Regions from separate parts of the Homo sapiens genome. Here regions 2, 3 and 4 are each linked to region 1. Evidence: fine-mapped expression QTL. A gene starts in region 1. Each other region holds a variant in brackets. All regions are shown on one strand. Distances are between the middles of the regions.

What was found. PIP is the estimated chance that this variant, and not a neighbour inherited with it, causes the effect.
Region 2: its variant is the best candidate, but not a certain one, in a credible set for the expression of SOSTDC1 in thyroid (GTEx, PIP 0.79).
Region 3: its variant is the best candidate, but not a certain one, in a credible set for the expression of SOSTDC1 in aorta (GTEx, PIP 0.59).
Region 4: its variant is the best candidate, but not a certain one, in a credible set for the expression of SOSTDC1 in gastroesophageal junction (GTEx, PIP 0.80).

The regions. Positions count from the first base shown.
Region 1 is chr7:16,463,191-16,468,234 of GRCh38, forward strand. It overlaps SOSTDC1 (sclerostin domain containing 1), which reads right to left and starts at 2,548. Exons shown (of 2, transcript NM_015464.3): 1 at 2,274-2,548. The coding sequence starts at 2,478. All of the region lies in intron 4 of LOC105375168 (a long non-coding RNA gene), which reads left to right.
Region 2 is chr7:16,203,809-16,208,852 of GRCh38, forward strand. The region is part of intron 9 of CRPPA (CDP-L-ribitol pyrophosphorylase A); the gene reads right to left. Among named protein-coding and RNA genes, the nearest start is that of CRPPA-AS1, 4.2 kb to the right of the region's middle. The variant T/C (reference allele first, on the strand shown) is at 2,918.
Region 3 is chr7:16,255,745-16,260,788 of GRCh38, forward strand. It overlaps CRPPA (CDP-L-ribitol pyrophosphorylase A), which reads right to left. Exons shown (of 10, transcript NM_001101426.4): 7 at 3,176-3,268; 8 at 2,646-2,738. All of the region lies in intron 3 of CRPPA-AS1 (CRPPA antisense RNA 1), which reads left to right. Among named protein-coding and RNA genes, the nearest start is that of CRPPA-AS1, 48 kb to the left of the region's middle. The variant A/G (reference allele first, on the strand shown) is at 2,012.
Region 4 is chr7:16,421,685-16,426,220 of GRCh38, forward strand. LOC105375168 (a long non-coding RNA gene) reads left to right here. Exons shown (of 5, transcript XR_007060223.1): 2 at 1,296-1,353. Among named protein-coding and RNA genes, the nearest start is that of CRPPA, 2.4 kb to the left of the region's middle. The variant C/T (reference allele first, on the strand shown) is at 2,122.

The DNA.
Region 1 (5,044 bases):
TAGGCCTGATTGTTTTTATATATAACATTAGCTAATTGCTTATTAGAGTGTTTGAAAATCCAATTTCCTTAGTCTGACTCTCCAATAAGGGGTTAGCAGCTCTTCCATTTATGTGTAAATATTCATTATTCAATGAGTTAAGAGTATACTTTAATATTCTCTTTCTCAAGGGTCATATTGGCTAATGTCTGCAAGTGTTTTTAATTAGGCTTTTTAAAAATCTGTTGAGAAAAAATGTGATAGCCATTTAAATATTGTGTATAATGCATATGCTCTCGGTAATATTTTATTTCAATTATAGACTTTAGCTGCAGAGACTCAGACATACATGTGTACAACATCTGACATTTTGCATATCAAACTTAATAACTATGTTTTAAACATAAATTCCCAAACTATCTTTTAAAAAATACAAACAGTAACATGTTTGAAATGTAAAATGCCACTACAACTCAAGACTCAAAGAATATAAAAGCCCCTAAATCAGGAACGTATGGTTGCCATAACAACTTGGCTACATTTCCATGAATTTTATGGCAGAAAAATGCCTAACATGTCTGATTTACAACTGCAAAAGGAACCACGGTGTTCATTTCCTGAATATTGGTCATGGCAAACTTTTTGTTTTAGTTATTTGGATTTGATAGGTATGTTCTCTAATTGGCTGTTTCTTGTTACATGCCTTATGTAATTAAAGCAAAAATTAATCTTTAAATATTTTAAGTTTTCCTTACCCTTGCTTTGTTATCTAAACTTGAGGAGAATTGCCTATAACAAGCTTGAAAAGAAATCAAGGCTTGCCAACCAGGAAAAAAAAAAAGGATGTTTAAAAGTACAGGCTGCTGACATTTTACAAATAAAAATGATAAGGGACACTGAAGTGGTTCCACAAAAAGTACTGAAAGATACGTCGAAGTAGAACTGAATCAGGAGTTTCACTTCATCTCTGTATGCTAGTACTTCTGAGGTAAGAGATATAGCTTAAGGGGAACGTGATAGTTGTGGAAAAACTTATGTATATAGACATGCATGCATAGAAATCTAGAATTGTGGGATTAAAATGTAAAGCGTAAATTGTTTGGTTGGACAGTGTGCTCAGCGTGCCTGATTCTGCCTCCAGCTCACCTTCCTGCAGCTGCCTCAGGAATGCACCTGGAAATAGCCAGAAATAATTTTGTCTCGTCAAGCTTTCTGTTCCTGTGTATATACAGATTTGGCATTTTTGCAGTGACAGTTCATTGACAACGAATACCCACCACATTGCTCAGTAATCTAATAATAATCAGATATGTCCTGTGTACTTAAAAGCAACCAGCTTCGTGAAAGTTAAAACATCCTAGCTTTCTTAGACATTAACAGTCAAATTTGCTTTGACTTTTCAAAAGTCAAAACTACTTTTCGTAGTTGAATGGAGTGAAGAAGGAGAGGCAAAAGATTTGTGTAAGATTTCCTGCGCAGTGTTTCTCTCTCTCTCTCTCTCTCTCTTAAAACCTGATTATTAGCATATGGCCTCTTCTAAAGGAAAAGATAGAAACAAAAGTTAGGGGTAATTTGAATCCCCCTAACCAGTGGTCAATTAGTGTGTCAACTAAGCTGTTGTTTTACATCTCTTAAGTTACAAAAATGTCCCCAGTCTGTCACAGAAATACACAATTATCTAAATTTTGAATGGGACAACAAGGAATTATTTTAGAAAAATGTGATTCTCCAACATTTTTAGTTTATCCCTCTTTTACATTGAGCATCATCAAAACTTTTGACTATCTCACTAGACATATTTTAGAAATCCAATGTAAACAAATTTTTTCTCCTGGAAGCTTCCTTTTTTCCCTTGTGATTCCCTATATTTATTTGTGGATGGTAACTAATAATATATATTAGTTACGTTTATACACTTTACCAAAATTGCATATGCCCTGAAATAAATTGACAAAACAACCGGAACTTGAGCTATCTAAAACAATACTTTTTAAAATGGTCATTTTGCATGATTTTGACAAAACAATAGTTTAATTCCTGGAAATGTTTTCTTTGTGGATGTTTGATAAAACTTCAGTCTGTGCTTGCACTATTAAACCACTGTTTTAGTTAGGTTAACTTTAAAATCACTACCTAGGGAAGAATGCCAACCTGCACATGCAGCAGATTACTCCCAAATTGTTTCACAACATATATACGGTTCAGGTTAGTTACCAATAAAACAATTCTACAGGAATGTGAGCTAATGCTACCAGAAAAGAAAAAAAAAAACTGTACAAGTAAAACACACTTACTGTTCCGATCCAGTCCAGTGTTACTGAAATGCCTGCCTCCATTTCTGGCTTGATTCAACGTGCTGTTGCTGCTGGGGTGTGCTGGAACAGGTTTAACCACATGTGAATAAAGGATTTCTGTGGCATCATTTTTAAAAGCCAAACAGCTTTTCATTAGGATGCATGCAAGGGGAAGGAGATAGAAATGAATGGCAGGAGGAAGCATGGTGAGTAGAGGATTTGCTTGACTGAAGAGCTGGTTAATTCTTTTGCTTCTGCTTCTGCACTGTAACTGTGAAATTCCTCCTCAAGCTTCCCTTTATATATCCATAGAGGTTTGGCGTTCATTCAGGTGTAAAGTTGTGTAGAGCTTCAGAGTGAAAACACAGAGAAGGGGTGGGATCCCTACATGACCCTGCAAAAGAATTTTACCAATGGAAAAGAAGACTGCAGAAAAGGAGGAGCTTGGTATACAAATTGCCTGAAATTTCAGAGTTGGACTTCATCACTTGTCTGTGAGCCGACGCAGGCAGGCGTATTCTATATCAACGACAGACTCTCCTCTGCCATTTCCTTTCCTGAATCTAGTTAACATTCGGGTTTAATTTAAACGAAAATACATCGCTGTTCATTTGAAGAGACTGGCTTTCCCACAGTTGTTCTGTACTTTCCTCAGATTTTAGAGTATTTGGGTCAGAAAGGGAGTTCTTCCCAGATAACAGGAGGAATTCATGTGAGTTTAAATATTGCAGGACTTGCATGAAGCACCTAGTTAGCTAAACATTGCTTTCTCTCAAGAAGCAAACCAATATTTTTTTTTCCTTAAAGTAAAAGGCACAGAGCTAAAACCTGCCCCCTGGACATGCTTAAATAATGCAGCTTTGATCTACAAGAACTACTGTGCTGCTAGGTAAATTATTGCCAGGGGTTTTGTGTGGAGAATAATGAGCATAGTTCTGTCTACATTAAAGTAAGTAATACTCATTTTTGTCTTAAAAATGTGTCACAAGCATTAATATCCATAGCATTGTTTTACATAAAGCCATTTGTGACAGACTTTTTAGCGGATTCAAAATAATTTTTTCTAGATTTTTTCAGAACACAGATTCTACTCGTATTTACTAAATATTTTGCTCATTACTTCCTTTGACTCTGCTGCCCAAGTAAGAAACCTATTTTTCTGAATTACTTTACCGGCACCCAGAACACGTGTTCCATTAATTAATTATAGGCCACTGATGATCCCTTTAAAACAATCATAAAATTCTATTTCATCATGGGACATCTCAATTGGAATAACTATTCTGAATCATCTTTTCAATTATAAATCCATTTTTGTCCTTTGTGTGGTTACCTAAATCACCTAATTTTGTATCTCTTTTCTGTATAAGCTTTTGTCCCTTGTAACTGCCATTTGCCTATATGTCTGCCTACCTGAATTTCTCCATAGCAGCGCTACTGGCATTTTGGAAGAGACAGTTCTTTATTATTGGGGGACCATCCTGTGTGTTTATCAGCATCCCTGGCTTCTAACGACTAGACGCCAGTAGCACCCCCCTAGTTGGTAACAAAAATAACTCCAAACATTGCCAAATGACCCCTACAGGGTAAAATCACCCCCAATTTAACCACTAATTATCTATTCATCTATCTCACTATAAAAGAAAGTAAAAATAAGTATAAAGGAAAAATATTATAATACCAAGAAATTATTGTTCTTTTTTAGGACAGAAATGGTACCGTAGTTTTGTTTTAAAACAATGACTGCTTCTCTATTAGAAGTATATACTGGAATATCCTTAGATGAAATGATTTTATATCATCTTTTACATTATATGGAATAAGCTAGAATAAGCTTCAAAAATAATATGAGGAGGTTAGAGGTGTGAGTGGCAAAAGATTAATTATAAGTTGATGGTTGTTACAGTAGGATGGTAAAGTATTATATTCTGTTTATTCTTGTGTATGTTCCAAATTCTACATAATAAAAAGTTTAAAAACCAGAGTCAGACAATCAGTTTAATGGACGTATACTTCCTACTAACAATATATCTCTATCCTACGATTGGATAGTCATTTATTCTAACATCCTTCCTGGAAAATCATATGTCAGTTTATTTTGTGCAAATGGAGATTACAGGCATCCTTCTAAAATACTAACTATGAAGAATTTCCTGCCCTACTTATCAGGGGACTTGATGTTAATTACACAAAGCATGTTAATATTAATCATTGACCTACAGACCCAATGCCTAAAGGAAATTAAAAGGTCAAAATAATCTAATCTGTTCCTCACTACTTTTTCTTTTTCTGTGTCAGAAGCAGGAGATATTTTAATTGGAATTTAATTATCGGGTTGGGCTAATGAGGTTGACCAAATTCACGCACAGTTATTAAATCTGCTGCACCTAGTATTCTGAAGGCTCAGCCTTAGGATATCACCTCAGGCAGAAGCAAAATTAGAAGAGAAGGCAATGTCGTTGTGCATGTGGACAGGACAAACTCAGAGTTCTTAGGCCCAATTTACCCGACAGACCCCTAGAGAACTATTTTGAGGCTGGGTGCAGTGGCTTCTGCCTGTAATCGTGCACTCTAAGAGGCCAAGACAGGAGGATCACTTGAGCGCAGGAATTCGAGATCAGCCTGGACAACATAGTAAGACCTTGTCTCTGCAAAAGTAAAATAAAAACTAGCTGAGCATGGTGATTCATGCCTGTAGTCCCAGCTACTCGGGAGGCTGAGGCAGGAAGAACGCTTGAGCCTGGGGTGTTGAGGCTGCAGTGAGCCATGAT
Region 2 (5,044 bases), 260 kb before region 1:
CACTCTGCCTGGATCCTCCTCCAGTAAATTTAGCTGAAACTGACATGCATGGCTGCATTTTAAATCATCATAAAATTTTATTCAGGAAGCAAAATACTGGAATCCATATAGCAACAAATCTACATAAAGATTTGACACACGTATTAATTCATGTTACAAAAACAAAGATCACTATATTCAAAATTTTAAGGATACTGGTTAAAAATTGAGATGAAATTTAAAAATTGCGTATCTATGTTATTTAGCAAACTGTGGTGAACATGTATTTCCTAGCTCATTAAAAATTGTCACTCTAATCACCTAAGTTATAATTTTGCAATTTACACATTTTAGTCTACATTTTCCTTTTTAAATTTTTAAATGAATTTGGCATGTTGGACAAAAAATTTTTACACACTTCCATCTACAATGTCATAAGCATCAGAAAACTATATGACAATTGAATTGAGGAAAGGTTAATCTGAATCAAATTAATATCCAAACAATATAAACCAATTAAAATTCTGAGATTTTGCAGCAATATGAGTAGGACTGGAGGCCATCATCTTAAGTGAAACAACTCAAACAGACACTCAAATACCAAGTTTTCAGTTATTAGTGGGAGCTAAATAACGTGTACACATGAACAAAGAGGGGAATGATAGACATTGGAGACTTGGAAGCAGGGAAGTGGGGTAAGGGGGAAATTGATGAGAAACGACATAATGGGCAGAATGTACACTATTCAGATGGTAGATACACTAAAAGCCAAGACTTCACCACTACACAACATACGCATGTAACAAAATTGCACTTGTTCTCCCTTAAATTTATACAACAAAAAAAACAAAACTGAGAAGGCACAGAGTCAGCAATCATTTAGCCACCATACCTAAGTCAAACTTTGGAATTTTGAGTCAAACTACAGAATTTTGAGATAATTCATTCAAGTTTAGCACCAAGTAAAACTGAAAAGTCATATAGAGATAGTTCCCTGTCTTCATAAGCTTTGATAAAGCCAAGGCATCTGTAACAGTAGAATCAAATGTAGTAACTTCTGTGACTTTCCTAAGATTTTTTAAAAATCATAACTTGGTAACGTTTTGGATTCTTACTGATTATTTTTCTTTACTGTATATTTTACATCAGAGAATTCATAATTCAAAGACCTAGAGGAGATATCTCTCCACGATTCTTAACACATATGCTTTCTTATTAAGCCCCAAATACAGACCAGCTGAAAAGATCTTTAATCTCAATGCAATATACACAGCACTTGGCAAGACAGAGGCTTGCAAACAACTGTCCCACAGGCAGCAGAAGGCAAAACAGCTATTCACCATTACTTATGTTCTTGAATTCACAACAACGGCCACATTTGCTATTGCTCAGCTAACCTCACAGGCCTGAGGAGATAATTAAACTCTAAATAACAAAAGGCATGCATTTTTAACACCCAATTAACCTGATGTAACCCTGATTTACATGACTTGAGAAAGTTACTGGTGAAGAAAATCCATGTTCTCATGATGTTGCTGGCAAAGCCTGGTGTTCTCAATTCATTAGAAAAACTGAAATTATGATATAGAAGGTACAACTGTAAAAAATACGAATGAGACTCTGAAATTATATTGGCCAGGTCACTTGTTAAAAATTACACCCCCCACACCAGTTGTGTTTATGCAGTTGCTTAAACTGGTAATTTTTAGGCTAAATACGATACCTTCATTATTAAAATTGCTACCAAAGTTCAGAAAGATTTGCCACTGAATGTTTTAATGTTTGCTCTATAATCAGCATGCTTTAGAAACCTTATGTAACCATTTTCATCTAAAAAGTCAGACTCAAGGATCATGCTTATTCCTTTCTCCATGGGCTAGAACTGGGAAGTGAGTAACTAGATTTGAGCAACTTCTTATCTAGGGGCTTTGGCTTATTTCCTCTTACTACAGTGAGAAAATTACAAGCAAATGTCTGCTAATGCTGGACTTTTTTAAACTATAAAAGAAAAAAAAAAAGATGATCCTCCCTAAAGAGCCAAAATCCTTTAATATCATCAAAACATCTTAAATACGAAGCCAGAAATTTAATAAAGGGATAAGAGAATTAAGGTGGTGAATATGGCACAATTAAATGTAAATCTTAGTAATATTTAATAAAACATATTATTCCTACTTAAAATTAAAAACCAAACAGATCAAGTCAGAATCCAAGATACCTAACCAGTAGACAAGCAAGAAATGACCTGACTCTTCACTGAAAGGCAACTAGAAATAAATAGTATAATGCAGATAGGTGTATTCTAAAACCACAAATGCATACCTTCATACATTAAAAAATTGTATGTGGCTTAAGATTTAGTGACTGGTATATTTTCACAGAAGCATATCCCCAGTGGAGGGTCAAAATATTTTTTTTGTTACCTTACTTTACAGTAAGAATGGAGCATAAGGTTGGCTCAGACCAATGATGTAAATACATACCAGTAGGTAATATATAGTTTAGTGGTCCATATTTTAATACATTTTATATTGTGCTGATTTCAGCTTGCAAGCCTATGAACAAAATTAAACTTCCTTTACTTGCGTCCTAACTTCAATACTTCTAATACAAAAGTATTTGTGGTAAACAAAAAAAAGCAGTATGTTCAATAGTGAACTTTTAGTTTCTTGTGTTTCTGAACCCCTCTTTTGAAAGATTTGTCTGTACATAAGATCTGTGGCCTAATTATTTTTATTGTGACTTAGAAAGTTTTGAGCCATAAGTACAAATTCTGAACCTTTTTTTAAAAAAGAACATAGTAAAAATTAAATGATTACAAGGTAAAATTTTAGCTGAAAAAAGTGGCAAATTCTCTGTGGTACTCTTTTTGAACACTATTTCTTTATATTCCTCCTTACAAAGTGTTTTAGAATGATACAGTGATTACAAACATACA[T/C]ATAAACAATGATAAAAGCATAACAATCATGAATAGTGTCTGTGTGAAACATCTGTGTTTTTCCTGTCCATTAAAATCCAGAGTCTAAAAGGAATTACTGTAGATATGTTTATTATTAAACCAACTCATTTCTAAACAGCATTAGCACATTGTCACTTTCCATTCAGTAAGAGGAAGTTTGAATCTTAATTAAAGTATACTTCCTTACCAGTTGTCAAAGGTGAGTAATGAGATGGATGAAAAACTAATAAATCTTGCTATTTTCTATAAACAAAACCAAATGCCAAACATTACACACCTTTCTGATTCTCCGTGAAGAAAGTCCTTTTATAATCCCATTGTGATCAAAATCAGAAACATTGATAGGATTCTCAGAGACTATAAACACATGACCTTATTTTGCAAACTATTCTCTTTACTGAGTGGGAAAGAAAGTAAGGGATTTTGCATATGACCAAATTCTACCACTCTTCCACTCTCATTCCTGGAAAATGGTTCTTGGACAGATAGCTCCTGATTTTGGAAATCACTTACCTTTGCTCTAAAATGATATACAGCATCTATTAGGCAATACGCTGCAAATGTTTCAAAGCATTCAGTCTTATTGTCACTGACTTAGAATGTCAAATCTTTAAAATTAGGTTGACTTCACATTTCTCCTACCTAGTTTCATTTCCTACCCTTCATGCTTTCAAGTCCTCAAGCATGAACGTGATGCTCTCCAATGGATTCCGTTAAACACTGCAATTTCACAGTTCCTTGTACAGCTGCTTATGCAGTTTGGATAATTAGTGTTGCATAAAGTGAAAACAAACAAAGATATCTCCCTCACTCACATATTATTCAAGGAAAGTCTACATAAAACTGCTGCAAGCAGGATACACACATTTTATTTCAATGCACTAAAATAATGCCATGTACATTAGAAAACACTCAGTTTTGCAAAGCCTAATTATTCAGTTTGTTCTTTTAGACTATTTGTCATGCCATTATTTCTTCACTATTTCATTACTCAAAATATCAGAAACTGGACAAAGACTAAAATCAAATCCCATTTTAAATTTTTCATTGATATAAGTAATAGAGCAGGAGTTTTACTGAGTAAATAGTTATAGGAAATCAGATCAATATCAATGAAGTATATCAGTGTTTTCCGTAAGTCCACAACATGTTTTCCTGAAGACTACCAGTAGGATTCCACTTGTCAAATTGCCTTCTTTTTGTTTCTATTCCTCTTGACTTAATATACAACTATCCCCTGGAAATACCTTTCTACAACCTCTGAGACACAGCACCTTTTGTATTACATGCTTTTACTGTATGCATCTCAACTTTCTCAATTGCAACAACACTATTTTCTAGCAATTATTTTGTAACACTGACTTCACTAACCTGAATCAAAATAATATAGCCTACCTATGCACCCCCATTAATATGATGCTTTAATTAAAACATAAAACTCATAAAGTGTCAAAAATAATTCCTTTTGTTATGACATGAGTTGGGATGGTGAGGAAGTCTCACAAAAACAAGGGATAAGGGATAATTTTTTAAAAATAACTTATACCTCTATTTTTGCCAGTTTAATATGTCTTAAGTAAAGCTCCAATCTCCTCTATTTACATACTTAACACTACTTTCATTGATTTTGCAGTGTTCTATACTGAATCTCCTTTCAAATACATGAGTTGGAAAAACAATACATTAGGTAAAAAAAATTGCAGTCTGTAATTTCATAATTTCAAGATAAAGCATTTAATTTTCTCACTTCATAAAGATCTTCTAAATTATGGTGTCTCTATGGAACCTCCCTTTATGACACACAGAAGCTGCCCTGCACCAGGTGAGAGAGCATGGCAGGCGGGGTGAACATTAGCCGTCCTCTTCTCAACTCCTCCTATACTATTGTGTGTCCCACCCTTATCAAAGAAGGCTATCTTTGGCTAATTCATCTTAAAAATTTGGTAGAACAAGGTAGAGAATAAGTGTATATCACCCATTCTTCATATGTATGCCTGGGTAATTTTGAAGGATATCATCTCCAGGTATATGAATTCCTTGAGGACTGAAACCTTGTTGGAAGTTCATACTACCCCTTAGTGGCTGGCACATTATGTTGTATATAAT
Region 3 (5,044 bases), 210 kb before region 1:
GAAAGCTGAAACTGGATCCCTTCCTTATGCCTTATACAAAAATTAACTCAAGATCAATTAAAGACTTAAACATAAGACCTAAAACCATAAAAACCCTAGAAGAAAACCTAAGCAATACCATTCAGGACATAAAGATGGGCAAAGTCTTCATGACTAAAACACCAAAAGCAATGGCAACAAAAGCCAAAATTGACAAATGGGATCTAATTAAACTGAAGTGCTTCTGCAAAGCAAAAGAAACTACCATCAGAGTGAACAGGCAACCTACAGTATGGGAGAAAATGTTTGCAATCTATCTATCTGACAAAGGTCGAATATCCAGAATCCACAAGGAACTTAAACAAATTTACAAGAAAAAATCAAACAACCCCATAAAAAATGGGTGAAAGATATGAACAGACAGTTCTCAAAAGAAGACACTTATGTAGCCAAGAAACATGAAAACATGCTCATCATCACTGGAAATGCATATCAAAACCACAATGAGATACCATCTCACACCAGTTAGAATGGCAATCATTAAAAAGTCAAGAAACAACAGATGCTGGAGAGGATGTGGAGAAATATGAACGCTTTTACACTGTTGGTGACATTGTGGAAGACAGTGTGGCAATTCCTCAAGAATCTAGAACCAGAAATACCATTAGACCCAGCAATCCCATTACTGGGTATACACCCAAAGGATTATAAATCATTCTACAATAAAGACACATGCACACGTATGTTTATTGCAGCTCTGTTCACAATAGCAAAGTCTTGGAACCAACCCAAATGCCCATCAGTGATAGACTGGATAAAGAAAATATGGCACATACACACCATGGAATACTATGCAGCCATAAAAAAGGATGCATTCATGTCCTTTGCAGGGACATAGATGAAACTAGAAACCATCATTCTCAGCAATCTAACACAAGAACAGAAAACCAAACACCACATGTTCTCACTCATAAGTGGTAGCTGAACAATGAGAACACATGGACACAAGGAGGGGAACATCACACACTGGGGCTTGTTGGGGAGTGGGGGGCTGGGAGAGGGATAGCATTAGGAGAAATACCTAATGTAAATGACAAGTTGATGGGTGTAGCATACCAGCATGCACATGTATACCTATGTAATAAACCTGCACATTGTGCACATGTACCCCAGAACTTAAAGTATAATTTTAAAAAAATGTTGGGAAATACATGGCTGAAGCTTAGGAATCAGATTAGAGCTGTGGAAGTTAATTTGGAGTCATCTCATCCAAAGACAAAAAAAGAGGACCATACTATTAAACAGAACTAACTTCACATGCCTGATCAGGGCCTAGCAGTGTGCTAGAAACTACATTTTGCATTCATTCACTTTCATCCTTATAACAACTTAAGAAGTAGAGTTATTAGCCTTGTTTCTACGTCGAGGAAACCAAACCTCAGAACAATTAAGTAACTAGACCAAGAAACAAGTGTTCTGAGTTCAAAGCCTTTGTTATTTTCACTACATTGGACGGCCTCATCACCATATCTGGGAACACGGAAAAATGAAATTTCTAAGCAAGTAAATGTGGAGAGAGGAATAAAAGGCCAAACACAGAACTTTGAACTTATCTCTATCCTACAGAGCCTCAGAGGCTTCCAACATTGGATATATTCCATATTGTTTCTAAAAATCTCAATGAAAGCTTGTGTTCTATGAAGATCAATTACATAAGAAGCTTGGGTTTCAAAACCAGATGCAACCATGAAAGTTATCTTTATGGTATATGACCAAATAAAGAGGCCACTGAATTAATTAAATCTCCCATAGTTGCTAATTTGTTACTACTTGCATTACTCAGTCAAGAGTTATTTATATTGCAAATTATCTTTATTCTTTATTACTAATCCTACCTGACAAGAATTAAATTCCCACAGTATGGGATGGGCCTGAGCTTTAGGAACTTCGAAGCTGCTAGGCACTTCTGAGAATTTATGGTCTGGAACCCCTTCACACAGCAAAATGCTACCAACTATACATTCTGCTCCTC[A/G]GCCAATTTAGAGGACTTGGGCTCTGATTTTGTTCCTTCCTGAGTTTACTCTCTGATAGTCCCCTCTGCTATATAGTTTAATGGGCTAATCAAATAAATTCTGCATTAAATGTATACTTTTAGATTTTCATGGAAAAATCTCCCAAAATTTTTCATAGGCCATTCTTCCAGGAATTCTCTTTAATTCGTGTTCTACTTTTGCTTTCGGTGGAACAGAGAAAATGAAACAACCCAAGAATCAGCTTTCTTCCACGAGGTTTTTTCCTCACATTAACATCTGGAATGCTTCCCTAATGGTATTCTGATAATATATTAAATAAAGCTGTTTTACATATCCAAACAACCAGTTGACTTAAACCGAATACTTTGCCATTTTAGTGAAGGAAAAAAATATGAAATTGGTTGCTGGGTTGAAAAAGATTTCCAAACCTGTCAGTTCAACCAAATGATTGCAATAATAAAGGCATTCAGTCATAGAAGTCATAGCTAGAGAGTAAGCAGAGGAATCCACAAACAAGAGTTTCTTTTGAGTATGGGTCAATGCTCTCAATTGGATGAGTTTTTAAAAATATGTACATTGAGTTACAAAGAAGGAAGCATAAGTTTGAGAAAAATCTGCATTAATTTCACTTACTGAAACAACAACAACAGGATATAAAATGCAAAGACTACTCTCTTCAAGCATGCTCAGTAACTTCTGGGTTTCTTGAAAATCAGAGGTTGTAACCTAAAAGACCAGAAAAATAAAAGGATATGAGAAGACGTTTTTAAATGACTTAAAACTTATTTCAAGGAATAAATGGAGAGATTCTGCATAACATTCAAAATATTTATCAAACTTAGTTTTTAATTTAGAAACAATTTTAAAGGATATCCATAAAGTTATACATGTCAAATTTTTATCTACTAATTGAGTCAAACCTGCCTCTTATTACCTACTTTGGACCAGGTACAAACAAAATTGAAAATATTGTCCAAAATACCACTCTTCTCATTATGGGAATTAGCTTGTTGAAAGTATTATTTCTCTTTCAAAGATAAAATCTCCAAAAATGTGTAGAAGAACTCATCATAATATCATATATAAATATTTAAGAATCAAATTAGTTCTCTTCCACATTTGTTCATATCCTTAAGTGCCTTCAATCATTTGAATTGACTTACATTCACACAAACAAAATTGTAGCATTGATCTAAGATGATTTGCTGAAGATGTCTGCCAGCATGACCCAGAGCCTCAGATGTGACTTTTACATGCTAGTAGGAAAAAACAGAAATGAATTCACAAATTAGATAGACCAAACATAAACATCTTTGTTACAAAGGAACACATAATTGCTAGAAGGCCCATAAAGCCAAGGACCATATATTTTTTAAAAAAATGAAACATGCTGAAGTTCATCAGGCTATCAAGAAATAGTCATTTGAACTAGGCTATGAATAATGCATATTTTAGCAAACAAGGATATAGAAAATTGTTTCACATAGGAAAAAAATATGGACATAAACAGAATATATTCTGGAACAGGCTAGTAGTCTGGTTTATCTTATACAAATAAATATTGAAGAGCATGTTGAAGGACTAAAAGAGAAAGGGTGCAGTGATGATTGCAGGTATCTGGAAGCACATAACACAGTTTTAATACAGGGAATAGACTTCACTAAACCTGAAATAACTAGAAATGGGGAAAGCAGTAAGAAATCATCACAACAATATAAGTGAGAGAGAATTAAGACTTAAACTACACAAACTATTCCTAAAACTGTCGGGAACTTACTTCTACTACTATAAGTAGTCCGAGATTAGATTAGATTTAGAGAAGAACACATATTATGCAAACTTTCCTAGTAAGATTTTTTATTCCATATAGTTTAATATTCTAATTAGCTTCTTTTAAGATTTTTCTATCATCACAATATGAACAAAAACTTAAGAATTACTAGACAAGGGATCTGTGATATCTTTGCTATAATAATTCCACAGGAAATCACATTTCAGTGATTCTTACTGGTATTACATTTAGAATGCTTTACATTTCATAGTTCTAAAAATAATACAGTGCTGTTCCTTGGTGAAACATCAAACTCTGTAACTCTGTACATTATCTATTTAGTAGCTTAATTTGCTATAATTTTGACAAAATACTGGAGAATGAGAAAGGAAAGTTTTCAAGGTCTTAGCTTTACTCTAGAAATTAGTTGGCTATTAAATTTTAAAAATTTTAGTTCAGTTTAAAATTCATATTGAGCATAAAGCTCAAAGATTTTTAAGAAAAAAGCCAAAAAGTCCATAGTCATCAACAATATATTAACACCACAATAAAAAAAGAAACCAGTATCCATTCTGCGATAGTAAGTTTGATCAAGTGGTAACATCTAGATATTACAGGGAGACAATTTTTCAAAAGTCCTTCATGTATTCAAACATTTTCAAAGGCATTAACAGCTAACTTGTTCCATACTTCCTTTGCAAGGATGTTTGTACAAATTGCAGAGATAGAGATATTTCTTCCTAGAACAGATTTATTTTCCAGTAAGATGGGGACATCTCTCTCTCTCTGGATTAGGCTTACTTGGCATTCCAGAGTTATCTCTTGAGGAGCAGATGGGCTGATTTGCCTGTATAAGGCCAGGGTTTCCTACTATCAAGGTTCTTTTTAAAGAACTCTACTGCCCAGCAACAACTAACTCTAATTGCATCTCTCCATGGAAATTGGAATTCAGAAAAAAACCGAGTGCTACATTTTTGTTCTTGCTACTGCTGTGGTTATAAATGGTCTTTTCTCTGACTCTGTAGTCTCAGATCTTCCACCAATATCTATGATACTGTGTCAGGCTGACTTATTTGCATGCAAGTAAGGTATAGTCTCACATCCTGCCAAGTTTCTGACTTCACAGATATGAAATAAGGCAACCATATCACCAGATCTTAACTTCAACAAAGATGCACAAGTGAATTCTGAACTCAGAAAAAAAAAAATCTTACTTTAAAATTTCCTTCTGCATGTAGAGAATGAAAACATGAGAGATATT
Region 4 (4,536 bases), 42 kb before region 1:
TACTCAAGGGCCATGAGTATGCAGGAGAGGTCAGGCCTCTGTCCCATCCCTCCCTGCTTTAAAATTTCGGAAGAGATTGGGATTCAAGTCACAGGATGGGACGTAGGGTGCGTATGCACCTCGATTATCTGAATTCCATTAAGCTCTGGAGGCTTCCTGGTTCCACCTGGGGTAAAGACAGATGGATTAGCAAGTGTTATTGTGGCACATCAATAATCCAAACTGTGGTGGCTCTCAAACTTGTCTGCACTTTGGAACCACCTGGGGAGCGTGTCCTGACACGCTCAGAGATTGGGATTTAATTGGTCTGGTGAGCACCGGACTTTGGAATGTTTTTAAAGATCCTCGGGTGATTCTGATGAGCAGGCATGTTTTGGAACCATAGGGTCAAAGCAATACTAATTGCTGAACAATCGATACACCTTATGTCATTTAGTCCCCAGAAGAACTCAACTATTGCCATTTCCCTTTTTACAAAGGGGAAAAGACGTTAAAATGGTTAATTTATGTAAGATTGCACAACTAATGGCAGAGGAGCCTTAAGGCCCTCATACAGAAGTAGGCCAAAGTTGAAGAATTCCAGGCCTAAAGCATATCTTACCTTATTTAGTACTCTTGTTGCTGGTGAGGTTTACCATGAAAGTATAGTGAGAATTTGGAGGAGAGCACTATTGTATTAGGTCCCTGGAATGTAAACTCCATGCAAGCAGCAACATTTTTCTTTTGGCTTGGGTTGTGTGTGTGTGCCCAGCTCCTGGAATGTAACACAAGCTTAATATGTATTGAATGAATTGCTGATTAAATAGATTAATGATCATTAAAGTGTATAATCATCAGTAATTCAGTCTTAATCCAGTGGCTTATGATTAATAAAAAATAATCTTTTTAAACACTGGAAATGTTATCTAGTTGTAGTATTACAATTTTTATTTTTACCTGTTTTCTTGAGAGCATATAAAAATATGTTTTCTGCTTTTCCTTTTTGTTTAGTCTTATTGAAGGCATTCTTTCACTTTTGTTACTTTTATTATAATTAGCATTTAGGTCCTGTGCTAGTTGGTTTCTTAACTGAAAAGTGGGTGCCATAATATACTTCCTTGTAATTTTTATTGCTATCGTTCCTTTCTAATTTGATCTCGAGGTCTCTCTCTTACGAGTGGCCATAAGCCAGAACAGCCACTCTTCAGGAGAGCCCTGGCCCAGAGAGGAAAGCTAGGTTCTGGTGTGCAGGTGAGACGCCAGAGGAGGCAGCACACAAAACATGTGAAATAACAGGCGCATTTTATTACTTACAGATTCACCAGAGAATAAGCCTGATGGAAGTCTGGAGATAACAGGACTCCCAACCAGCAGGTGGGGTGCAAGAGAGAGGACCTGTGGGGCTGTGTTAAGGTCCAAAGGCTTTATCCCTTAGGCTTTCCAGAGGGGGTTGTGGATTGACTAGTTTAAAGAAAACACCAGCAAAGGGAGAACTTGACTCTGGTGTTGACCATTGGGTTTTATCATGGTTAGCAGCTGTTGGGTTTTTGGTCATGGAATGAGGAATAAGTGTTCTATATCACAGGGAGGGGAAGTTTTAAGTAGGCCACAGGTGACGTGATACAACTGGGTTTCAAACAGCTTATATCAGGCCTAAAAATGGATGCCCAGGCAGCAACTATATTAAACAAGTTTGGCACAATACTTGACTTCATAGCGCCACTACCACACCTGTATCAAGCATTTAAATATCTGTTGACTAACTGGGTGGATAAATAAATGAGTCTATCTATGAGAGCAGGAAGGCAAATCGAATTAGTATTTCTATTAATATTGATCTTTAAACCTCCCTTTTTAATCTAAAGGTGGAGTTGTTATAAAGGTATTCTTCCTTTACTTAATCTTGAGTGAAGAAAAGTAGAGTAATAAAGCTCTTGTTATACTAATTGCTATAGAATAATTTTATATAATTAAACATTGACAAATTTTAACTAGAATCTTAGTTTTGTTCTTAGAGCAGATATATCAATTTAGATCTTCCATGAATCCTTAGATCCTTAGATCTTATATACTGTATATTAACAATGTCTAGCAGACCAACTTGTAGAGAAAAAAGGGCACATTAAAGTATTCATTCATATA[C/T]GTAGTATGAAGCAACATTTTTCTCTCTGTCCTTTTTATATAAATATAATTAGTTCCATGTTTTGCATACTTTGGGGTAACAGATGTAGCTTCCTTGTTACTTAATACCAAGTTATAGCAGCCACAATATGAGAATATCTTCTCTGCATCAGGCATGTGAAAGTACATACCCTGAAAAGTGAACTCCTCTGGGACCCATTGGTAATAACAATTCTAAGATATCACTTGAAGAGTTTAGAAAAAATAAACCCCAACTGAATCATGAGGCAGAGCATGCAGAGTTGGAAGTTCCTGGAGTGGTTTCCATTTTGAGCTTCCAAGTAGGCAAAATAATGACTCCCCAAAGATGCCCATGCTCTTATCTCCAGAAGCTATGAATATGTTACCTTACACTGCTAAAGAGACATTGCAGATGTGATTAAGTGAAGGATCTCAAGATGGAGGGGAGTAGCCTGGATTATCCAGGTGGGCCCTGTGTAATCTCTGGCATCCTTATAGGAGAGAGGTCAGAGTTAGAGAAGGAGGTATGAGGATGGAAGCAGCCATCAGAGTGCAGAGGGGTGGGAATGTAGGCAACCTCTAAAAGCTGGAAAAGGCAAGGAAACAGGTTTTTCTCTTAGAGCCTGCAGAATAATATAGCCCTGCCACCCCATTTTCAGATTTCTGATATCCAGAACTGTAAGATAACATACTTGAGTTGTTTTAAGCTGCTAAATCTGTGGTAATTTATTATAGCAGCAAGAGGAAACTAATACAGGCTTCACACTGAGGAAGATTCTCATTTGGACTATAATCTGCAAATGAAGTTATACGTAGTTAGAAATGCAGTAATATGATTGAAAAAATAAGGCACTGTTCATTCAACTTTATGTCTCGTTACTAGAACCCCAGTATTGACTTTTAAAATAAATCCTTTGTCTTGTGAATTTAAAAATGTATTATAAATGTTTAAAGCATAACTTTGTTAAATGTATACCACGATTTCATAACCTGGCTTTGGCATGCCTTTAATTTTTTAAAGTAGACTAAGTGTAGTTTTAGGTTCACAGCAAAATTGAGAGAAAGGTACAAAAATTTCCAATAGCTCCCTGCCCCACACATACATAGCCTCCCACATTATTAACATCTCCCACCAGAGTGGTACATTGGTTACAACTGATGAACCTACAGTGACACATCATTATAACCCACAGTCCCTAGTTTACGTTAGAGTTCACACTTGGTGTTGTACATTCATTCTATAGGATTGATAAATTTACAGTGATGTGTATCCACCATTACAGTATCATGCAGAGTAATTTCACTGCCCTAAAATCCTCTATCCTCTGTCTATTCATGCCTTCCTCTCCTCTAATCCCTGCCCAATCCCTGGCATCCAATTATCTTTTTACTGCCTCCATGCTTTTGCCTTTTCCAGAACATCATATAGTTGGAACCATACAGTATTCTTTTCAGATTGGCTTCTTTCACTTAGTAATATGCATTTAAGTTTTCTCCATATCTTTTCATGGCTTGACAGCTTCTTTCTCTTTAACACTGATTTTTTTTTTTTTTCTGGATGTACTGTGATGTATTTATTCACTCACCTACTGAAAGACATCTTGTTTGCTTCCAAGTTTTGGCAATTATGATTAAGCTGTAATAAACATCTCTGTGTAGGGTTTTTTTTAATTTTATTTTAAGTTCTGGGGTACATGTGCAGGATGTGCAGGTTTGTTACAAAGGTAAACGTATGCCATGGTGGTTTGCTGTACCTATCAACCCTTGACCTAGGTATTAAACCCAGCATGCATTAGCTATTTTTCCTAATGTTCTCCCTCCCCACTCCCCATCTCCCTACAGGTCCCGGTGTGGTTCCCCTCCCCGTGTTCTGATTATTCAGCTCTCACTTATAAGTGAGAACATGCGGTGTTTGGTTTTCTGTTCCTCTGTGCAGGTTTTTATGTGTACAAAAATTTTCAATTCCTTTGGGTAAATACCAAGGAGAAAGATTGCTGAATTGCACGGGCAAAAGTATGGTCAGTTTTGTAAGAAACGGCCAAACGGTCCTCCAAAATAGGTATACCATTTTGCATTCCCACCAGCAATGAATGAGAGTTTCTGTTGCTTCACATCCTCACCAGCATTTGGTGTGTCAGTGTTCTGGATGTTGGCCATTCTAATAGGTGTGTAGTGGTATCTCAGTGTTGATTTAATTTGTATTTATTTGATGACATATGATGTTGAGCATTGTTCATATGCGTATTTGTCATGTGTATCATATTTGGTGAGGTGTCAGAGTCTTTGGCCCACTTTTTAGTTGGGTCATTTGTGTTTTTATTGTTCAGTTTTGAGAGTTCTTTGTTTATTTTGAAGAACAATTTTTTATCTGATATTACTTTGGCAAATATTTTCTCTGTGGCTTGTCTTCTTATT